Homo sapiens: one gene and its partners. The protein of the gene in region 1 interacts with the protein of each later gene in a biochemical or structural test. Each region holds a gene or a part of one and is shown in the gene's direction. Other genes may lie near its edges.

Region 1 (3,500 bases):
GGAAGCCAGCCCCTGGCAGGATTCAAGGGTCAAATGGCTGGGACGGTGAGGTACCCAGGCCCACTAGAAGCCTAGGGCAATGGAGCGCAAGTTCAAAGTGTCATCTGAAAGAGTTCTGGGCCCCATCTGGGCTCAGGAGAAAGTGAAGAACTGGACGTGGGAGAGGAAGGCCAAGCGCTGGGTGGATTTTAGAACAGAGCAGGAGAGGAAGAGAATACAACTGAGAGGACAGGAGGAGATCCCGGACTGCTGTCACCCACGAGGCTGGGACCCCCAGGATGGGACACCCCATTCCGCAGGGTCCACTGCCTGCTGTGTGGATAAGGTCACCTGGCCCAAAGGCACTGTCAGAGCAGGTCCTTGGGGATCCCTGTGCAGGCTGGTGAAGGATGGTTTGCTTTGATGTGAGTTTAAGTTGAGGCAGAGGAGGGCCTGAGATGGGAGAGTGGCCGGTCCTAGATGCCAGGATGACAGGCCACAGGGGGCCACTGCAAGCTCTGCCGGGCACTGGTGCATCAGAGTGGCATGTGCAGAATTGTGGTGGGCATTGTGGTAAAGGATGAGGACGCGGCAGGGGCATCGGTGAGGAGGCCGTTGTGCACATTCAGCTGAGCAACAGCTAGGGCCGAATCAGGGAAAAAACAGTGAAAATGAAAGAAAGGGGGAAATCAGGATATATTGCGAGACCTGATTGCCATTGATAAAAACTGGAAAATCACAAGGCGGAGCTGGCTTGAAGGGGAAAAAAATAGAACTTGTTTTCAGACTTACTGATTGTGTGACATCAGTGGAAGAACCCAGAGAAAATACCCAGAAGGCAGCTGAAAATAGCGATGCGTCGCTTAACAACGGGGATATGTTCCGAGAAGCGTGTCATTAGGTGACTTCGTCATTGTGGGAACCTCATGAAGTGTGTATACACAAAGCCCACTTCAGTTAGATGGTGTGGCCTATTGATCCTAGGCTACAAACCCGTATAGCATGTTACTTTACTGAATACTGTGGGCAACTGTAACACAATAAGTTTTTGTGTATCTAAACATTAAAAAGGTACAGTAAAAATATGGTATAAAAAGAAAAAAATGGGCTGGGGGCAGCGGCTCATGCCTATAATCCCAGCACTTTGGGAGGCCGAGGTGGGTGGATCACTTGAGGTTAGGAGTTCAAGGCCAGCCTGGCCAACACGGTGAAACCTTGTCTCTACTAAAAATACAAAAATTAGCCATGCATGGCGGTACACGCCTGTAACCCCAGCTACTCGGGAGGCTGAGGCAAGAGAATCGCTTGAACCCGGGAGATGGAAGTTGCAGTGAGCCGAGATCGCGCCATTGCATGCCAGCCTGGGTGACAGAGCAAGACTGTGTCTCAAAAAAAAAAAAAAAAAAAGAAGGTGGTACACCTGTATAGGGCACTTACCATGAATGAAGCTTGCAGGCTTGGAAGTTGCTCTGGGTGAGTCAGTGAGTGAGTGGTGAATGAGTGCGAAGGCCTAGGACATTACTATGCACTGCTGTAGACCTTACAAACACTGTACACTTAGGCTACCCTACATTTATTTTTTAAATTTTCTTTTTCCAATAATAAACTAACCTTAGCTTACTGTAATTTTTTATTTATAAGCTTTTTATTTATAAACAATTTAATTTTTGACGCTTTTGTAATAAAATGTAGCTTAAAATACAAACACATTGTACAGCTGTACAGAAATATTTTATTTCTTTATATTCTTAATCTATAAGCTTTTTTTCAAGTTTTAAAATTTCAAAACTCTCATTTACATTGACTTTTTTGTTGAAAATTAAGACGTAGGCTGGGCACCGTGGCTTATGCCTGTAATCCCAGCATTTTGGGAGACCGAGGTGGGTGAGTCACCTGAGGTCAAGAGGTCGAGACCAGCCTGGCCAACATGGCAAAACTCTTGTCTCTACTAAAAATACAAAAATTAGCTAGGCGTAGTGGTGTGCACCTGTAATCCCAGCTACTTGGGAGACTGAGACAGGAGAATCGCTTGAAACCTGGAAGCAGAGGTTGCAGCGAACCGAGATGGCGCCACTGCACTCCTGCCTGGAGCAAGGCTCCGTCTCAAAAAAAAAAACAAAAACAAAAACCATAAATGCACACATTAGCCTAGGCTGAAACAGGCTCAGGATGGTCAATGACATTATCACCCACCTCCACATCTCATCCCATGGAAGGTCCTCGGGGCAATAACATGGAGCTGTCGTCTCCTATGATGACAATGTCTTCTTCTGGTTACCTCCTGAAGGACCTGCCTGAGGCTATTTTATAGTTAACATTTTCTTATAAGTAGGAATACACTCTAATGATAAATAATATCGTAAACACGGAAATGAGTGACAGTTGTTTATCATTATCAAATATTATGTACTGAACAGAATTGTACTGTTATGCTTTTACACAGCTGGCAGTGCAGTGGGCTGGTTTGCACCAGCATCCCCAGAAGCATGTGAGTAATGTGTTGCGCTGTGACGTGATGACAGCTACAGCAGCACTACGTGATGGGGATTTTCCAGCTCCATTATAATTTTGTAGGACCTCTGTCCTATATGCAGTCCATTACTGTGGTACATGACTATTTGTGGAGCCCCACGGGTAATTCTCAGAGGCAGCTGATGCCGAGAACTGCAATGTTAAGAAGTAACTGTTTAGGCTGGGCACAGTGGCTCATGCCTGTATTCCCAACACTTTGGGAGCTGAGGCAGGTAAATCATTTGAGGCCAGGAGTTTGAGACCAGCCTGGCCAACATGGCGAAACCCCATCTCTACTGAAAATACAAAAATTAGCCAGGTGTGGTGGCGCACTCCTGTGATCCCAGCTACTCAGAAGGCTGAGTCAGGAGAATTGTTTGAATCCGGCAGACAGAGGTTGCAGTGAGCTGAGATTGCCCCACTGCACTCCAGCCTGGGCAACAGAGTGAGACCCTGTCTCAAAAAAAAAAAAAAAAAAAGGACTTAACTAACTGTTAGGCAGAATCAATGAAAACTAAAAATGCACCTATTCTATGATTCAGTAATTCCGCTTTGGTGTGTGTTCAAGAGAAATTTGTATATTTGTTCACCAAAAATAGGTATAAGAATGTTTAGCCGGGCATGGTGGCTCACGCCTATAATCCCAGAGCTTTGGGAGGCCAAAGCAGGTGAATCACCTGAAGTCAGGAGTTCCAGACCAGTCTGGCCAACACCGCGAAACCCGTCTCTATACAAAATTAGCCGGGCATGCTGATGGGCGCCTGTAATCCCAGCTACTCGGGAGGCTGAGGCAGGAGAATCACTGGAACCTGGGAGGTGGAGATGGTGGTGAGCCGAGACCATGCCACTGCACTCCAACCTCAGCAACAGGGCGAGACTCCATCTCAAAAAAAAAAAAAAAAAAAAAAATGAATGTTTATGGCAGCCTTGTTTGTAATCTTCAAAACTGAAAACAACCCTATGTCCATTAACAGTAGAGTAGATAAATGTGATACTTATAAACAATGGAA
Region 2 (2,236 bases), on another chromosome or scaffold:
GTTTTGTTATAAGATATTGATTTCATTTAGATTTCCCTCCACGAGGTCAGCAAACTATCATGTTCTTATGTAAACTTAGGCCAAGGCCAGAGTTATCATAGTCCCTAGGTTGCTACGGCTTATCATGTGCTTGGTAAAAGGTGATCGCAGGTTCTCAGACGAGTTTACTTTACATGAGATGGAATCAGGCAGAGAGGCTGGGATGATGGAGAAAGCTCGAGGTGAAGTTTTAAAAAAAAAGTTGTGGAAAGGAAAGTTCCAAAGAGGTGGTTTCTGAGGAAGTCAGAGCGCCCAGGGCCAGAGCAGTCAGTAATGGGTGAATGAGGTTGTTTGGAAAGTCGGTGTGACAGACACATGGATGCCATCTACTTCTAGGTTGCTGGTGGGTATTAAATATGCACAATATTCCATAGCTCACTGAGGATTTTAAAATTATAAGCATAGGATTTTATATTTTGGGGTGAAAGAATTATCTGGCACATTAGGTATTGGAGTTTAAAAAAAAAGCCAAATTTCACAGTCTTAATAACTTTTTTTAAAAAAAACTAAAAGGCGCTTCATGTCCAGTGTGTGGCCCTTCTGAAACTTATGGTCATCTCTCCCACTGAAACCAAGGTCTTTTCAAATGTGGCTAAATGGGGATGAGGAGACACGGGTAGGACTTTCTTGGTGTGTGTGCATTCTTTAAAGAGCCAAGTTGCTTCGGGGAAACAGCCAGGAAAATGGTCAAGATTATTTTTAGAGGTTATTTTATTGGGGATTTTAAGAACTAATAACATCTTGAGTTATTTTTAATTCAGGGGGATGTGGAAAGGTTTGCAATTGTCAAGTGTTTTGTTGTAGCTTAGTATCCATAAGGGAAACTTAGACTATAGACATAACTACAAAGCCAGTGCAGCTTTTGTTTTCTGTATGTTGTTGGGGGATCAACTTTCACACATAGCAAGCACATGGCCTCCCTGATGTCAGGATGCCTTTGTTAGGATCTGTATTTGCCCTTAATTTTGTTGAAATCTTTTTTCCTTCTTCCTCTTGAAAAGTTCCAAAATATAGTTTATTGTATCTTTCATCACTAAAAATTTGTTCCTTTTTCACTATGGGCAGTTCACACAAGGCAAAAACTATTGAACAGTTGGTTTTAGTGTGTTGTATAACTTTGCTGTATATCAAACTAATTTTGACAAGTTTTCATCCTAAGCCTCAAATCATGTAATTAATAATTTGCCTGTTTATTTATGACCTAATTGTGATTCTTTTATTAATAAAAGCTAATGGGAAAAGGATCCCTGATTAAGCTGATGACTAGACCTACAATTAATTTTCCTGCAGTATATGAAGTATTGTACCAGAGTATTAAAAGATATGTAATATTTTATTGATAAATCTATCCTTTAAAAGGAATACGTTTTAGGATGTCATCATTTTGATGTGAATCATGTAAATGTTGATAATATGCTGTTTATTATACATTTAGTGTTTCAAGAGATTCACTTAATTGCCTTTTTGCCCACGTATATTATGTAGTCTATTTGCAACTGTTCTTAAAAAAATGACATTAAAAGAATAGTTTATGTAGAGAAACATTAGTGGATGTTAATTGTCTCCCCACCTATATTTATGGGTGTTAGCGCAACTGCTTTGCTAGTTGCAAAGCTGTATTATCAGAGTAAAAGTGTATTTGTAAACTGTATGGGAACTAAAAATTAGGAATAAAACCATTTTCTTATATGATGGCATTTGTCGTTTGCTTCATCAGAAATGTCCAGGAAAAAAATGGGATTATTGGTCACTCCACCTCTCACACTGGCAAAATACTGACATTTAGCAGCTCTTATCTAGAAGTGACTTGGAACATAGAATAAAGGCATGAGTTCCTGAAGAATTCATTGAGTGTTTCCTGTAGAAATAGCTTTAGGAGATAGGGAGTTCTATCTGGGAGAACATATGAGTAACTCAAGAGTAAAAAGTATAGTCTGTGTAAACTATAGAAGAAATGCTGGGCATGGTGGCGCGCCCCTGTAATCTCAGCTACTTGGAGGCTGAGACGGGAGGATTCCTTGAACCCAGGAGCCCAGGAGTTTTAGACCAGTCTGGGTAACATAGTGAGACCCTTTCTCACCTACTCTCACTGCATGCCCCCCAAAAATATATATGTGCGCGCACGCGCGCGCACACACACATACACACACACACACACACACACACACACAGAGGAAATTGTTAGAAAACACACAGA
Region 3 (3,500 bases), on another chromosome or scaffold:
CTGTGACCTCAGTCTCCTGATTAGTTGGGATTAGAGGTACCCGCCACCATACCTGGATAATATTTTTTTTTTTTTTTTGTAGTAGTAGTAGAGACGGGGTTTCACCATGTTGGCCAGGCTGGTCTCGAACTCCTGACCTCAAGTGATCCACCCACCTCGGCCTCCCAAAGTGCTGGAATTACAGGCATGAGCCCACCACACCCGGCCAGATGAATCAGATTTAACACCAGATATGTGTCTTTAAAGGAGACCCAACTCATAATATCAGCATATCCTGACTGGATTAACTGGTGGAAATCAGAAGGAAAGCAGACTCCTCAGTCTTTACTTAAAGACAGAAAACAAGCAAATTCCTGGTTAGGGGAACAAATGATGACTGGTACGGACACAGAGGGCTAACATTCAACACTGGCTGCCTCCAACAGGGCACAATTGGATAGTAGTTGAGAACTACCTTCTGAAGTACCATTTCCTGGGTTCAAATCTTAGCTACAGGGTTGCAGGTTACATGGCCTTGGGCACATTCCATAACCTCTCTGTACTTCAGCTTGCTTATCTGGGGAGAATAATAGTACCTACCCCAGGATTGCTGGGAAGACAGCTAATCTAATATACTTGGAATACTTTTTCCCATCTGATTTTGAAGGTTTTGTTTGTTTGTTATTACTCCCCCCTGAACAACTGAATTAAGTGTCTTTGTGAAAACTGAAAGCAAATGGAAAATTTCTTCATGAAAATTGAATACCCTTCACCTACTTGAAAAAGGTTAATTATTCAAGCACTTGATTTTAATAAAGCCAGTGCGTTTGCTTGTGCTCATGCTAGAACAGACAGGGAGTTACTCTCTGTTTTCGTCCTGGAAGCCTGCACTTTGGTTTGGTCAGGCTGACCTCGCTGGTCTCAATTAAGTCCTCCCCACACCCTCTCAGACTCCTGACAGAGAAGGAGCAATCCTTCCCCCTGAAGTCAGCATTGTCACAGAAGGAAGTGGGAAGGGAGGGACCACCCGGATTAAACTGAATGACTAGGCTAGAAATAAAAATTCTTCCGAGTGTGTGCAGGCCCCATACTATCCTTGCCCACATAGCTGGGCAGGTTGCCATGGTTACTCCCCTTCCCGCATCCTTCTACCCTGGAAGGAAGCCTGCCTCTCTAGGGGAAGTAGAATCTGAACAAATTGCTTCCTGGTCTAAAAATGGAAGTTACTAAGTGAAGTAGAATCTCCTCTCTACTTATATCACCCCCTCCAAACTTATTTTAATCCCAATACTTAATTTTCTAACCTTCCTAGTTCTTGCATCATCTAGATAGCAAAACATGAAAGCTTATGAAATTTCTGGAACCTAAAAGTTACTACCTCAATATAGAAGCAGCCTGGCAAGTTTTCCCTACTACATTTGTACTAGCTAGCTAGGGGCAAGTGATTTTTAACTAAGTCAACTGGTAAAAATTCTAAGTGAATGGGGCAGGCTGAGTGAGTGTTACGTTGAAGGTAAACAATGTATGAGGGCTGTCACTTAGATTTTCAGGTAACCATAGAGTAAAGGGAGCAGGTAAATAGGAAGTAACAATCCTAGAATGCTGGATTTGAAGCACCTTTCAACCTAGAAGAAATCTGGATGAGGGAAATATGGTTTAATGTTGTCTCTTGGTAAAAAACTACCCTATTGCTACCTAGCAATATGATGCAAAATGTTAGTCCCAAAAAGACTTTGATCTTTATATGAAAGATGAGCTGCCATACACAAGTTTGCATTTGACAAATTAATTCAGTCTTTCAAAATTGGACATTTAGCTTGATGTGTATTTCACAGCTTGAGGGAACTCATCTAAGACAATAGTTCTCAGAGCTGATTCCCAAACCAGCAGCATCAACATCAGCTGGGGACCTGTCAGAACTGCAAACTCTGGAAGTAGGGCCCATCCAGCTGTATCTAAACTAGCTCTCCACCACGTGATCCAAGAGTAACTTTCATAATTCAGTGGTTTTAGGATTCACTTCTTCAGTGGAAATCATAACAAAGTATTTGAATTCCTTCAGTCATGGAGATAATAAAGCAAAAGCCTTTAAACACAGTGCAGTTTAACTGAATCTTAGGATGCAGAAAGATTAAAAAGCATGGGATTTGGATATTTTTCCCATATACCAAGTATGACTTTCTTGATCCTAGGAAATCCAATATACTTTTGGTTTGATATTATCACCTCACTTCCAAATCTTTTCCCCTCTGCTGGGGTTTTTAAAGAGTATAATTAATCTTCATTTATTAGGAGACTGTCCCACTTACTTCTTTTAAAAAGGATTCCAGTAAACTAGATCATTACCCTTGAACCAGATGGTTTTCTCTAACCTATAAAACTTTTTATTTTGTTTTTATGCCATGTCTAGAAGTGCAGATGAAGTCCTCTCCATAAATGAGTCTACTTCATTTAGTTTTTGTAAAGTTTAATGGCTAACGAAGCACTGCTCCTTTCTCCCATTCGACTTTCACTTTAAGTAACTTGAAATAGAAAAGATATCTCTATTTATTGGCTCCAATATGATGAGTATCTTGCCCAAGGTGTTATCATTAAGTGGTAGAGCCAGGATTCAATTATGAATCTTTATGATTTGCACCTTGGCGTTTATCTGAATACTTAGCAATTACCTACTATGTGAAGTCTGATGCTAGGTTAGCAATGGAAAATCTCCCAGTGAGCAGAAATCAAAACAAAAGTCTTCCTCATGTGTGGCAAAGGACATAGGATAGAGAGTTAAACAGACTTACATGTGAATGGCAGTGCTACCATTTCTTGGGCATGCTATTCAATGTCTCTGGCCCTTAGTTGTCTCACTTACCTTGCAAAAACAGTCCTAAGAATGCCTGATGTCAAACAGAGATCACATCTCAAACTGAAAAATACAAGGGTGTGATGTACAAGTATATAATTGGAACTCTGATTTTGAAAAGCCAACATAGATTCATGGTTAAGAGCTTGGGTTCTAAGCTGCAAATGACTGTGCCCACAGCCTAGCTTTGCCATGTAAGACAAGCTATATAAGGCCTGAGCTTCATTTCTCCATCAGGAAAATGAGTTGCCTCGATTTTAAAATTAAAAACTCTTCAGAACTCCTGCGGCTGCTTCTGAAATTTACCTGTCCTAGAAATGCAATTCTCAATGCAATAACTAAGCTGATATTTTTTAAATGGTCTTGTTCTCATTGTTTTTGAGTATCAGGCAAGCTAAATTCTAGAGATGCACACATTCAGGCTGAAAATTAGAAGACTGTCTTTCCTATATATCTTTAAACTATTAAATGTGAATAATCAAGGAGGAGAATGTGGCAATGCTTCATAAATCAGTAGAGGCACACAAATACTAACTTTAAGGTACCACTTAAACCTCATCTGAGCAGGGCAGTTAAGTCCTCTTAAGGTCTATAGTTAATCCATACCCAAAGAACTGGAAAGTGAATAACTTCATCCCTAATTGTGTCCATATTGAACACAGCTGCCCTC

What was found. Proteins that work in one complex are often made in the same cells at the same time.
Region 2: the proteins of INPP5D (region 1) and PTPN11 interact in a test that uses a peptide from one of them, tested with the Homo sapiens proteins (one study listed by BioGRID).
Region 3: the proteins of INPP5D (region 1) and DAB2 form a complex in vitro, tested with the Homo sapiens proteins (one study listed by BioGRID).

The regions. Positions count from the first base shown.
Region 1 is NC_000002.12:233,171,842-233,175,341, forward strand, and holds part of INPP5D (phosphatidylinositol 3,4,5-trisphosphate 5-phosphatase 1), read left to right. Parts: intron 1-3,500. UniProt on the Homo sapiens protein: Phosphatidylinositol (PtdIns) phosphatase that specifically hydrolyzes the 5-phosphate of phosphatidylinositol-3,4,5-trisphosphate (PtdIns(3,4,5)P3) to produce PtdIns(3,4)P2, thereby negatively regulating the PI3K (phosphoinositide 3-kinase) pathways.
Region 2 is NC_000012.12:112,508,183-112,510,418, forward strand, and holds the end of PTPN11 (tyrosine-protein phosphatase non-receptor type 11), read left to right. Parts: 3' UTR 1-1,736; downstream 1,737-2,236. UniProt on the Homo sapiens protein: Acts downstream of various receptor and cytoplasmic protein tyrosine kinases to participate in the signal transduction from the cell surface to the nucleus. Positively regulates MAPK signal transduction pathway. Dephosphorylates GAB1, ARHGAP35 and EGFR.
Region 3 is NC_000005.10:39,418,481-39,421,980, reverse strand, and holds part of DAB2 (disabled homolog 2), read left to right. Parts: intron 1-3,500. UniProt on the Homo sapiens protein: Adapter protein that functions as a clathrin-associated sorting protein (CLASP) required for clathrin-mediated endocytosis of selected cargo proteins.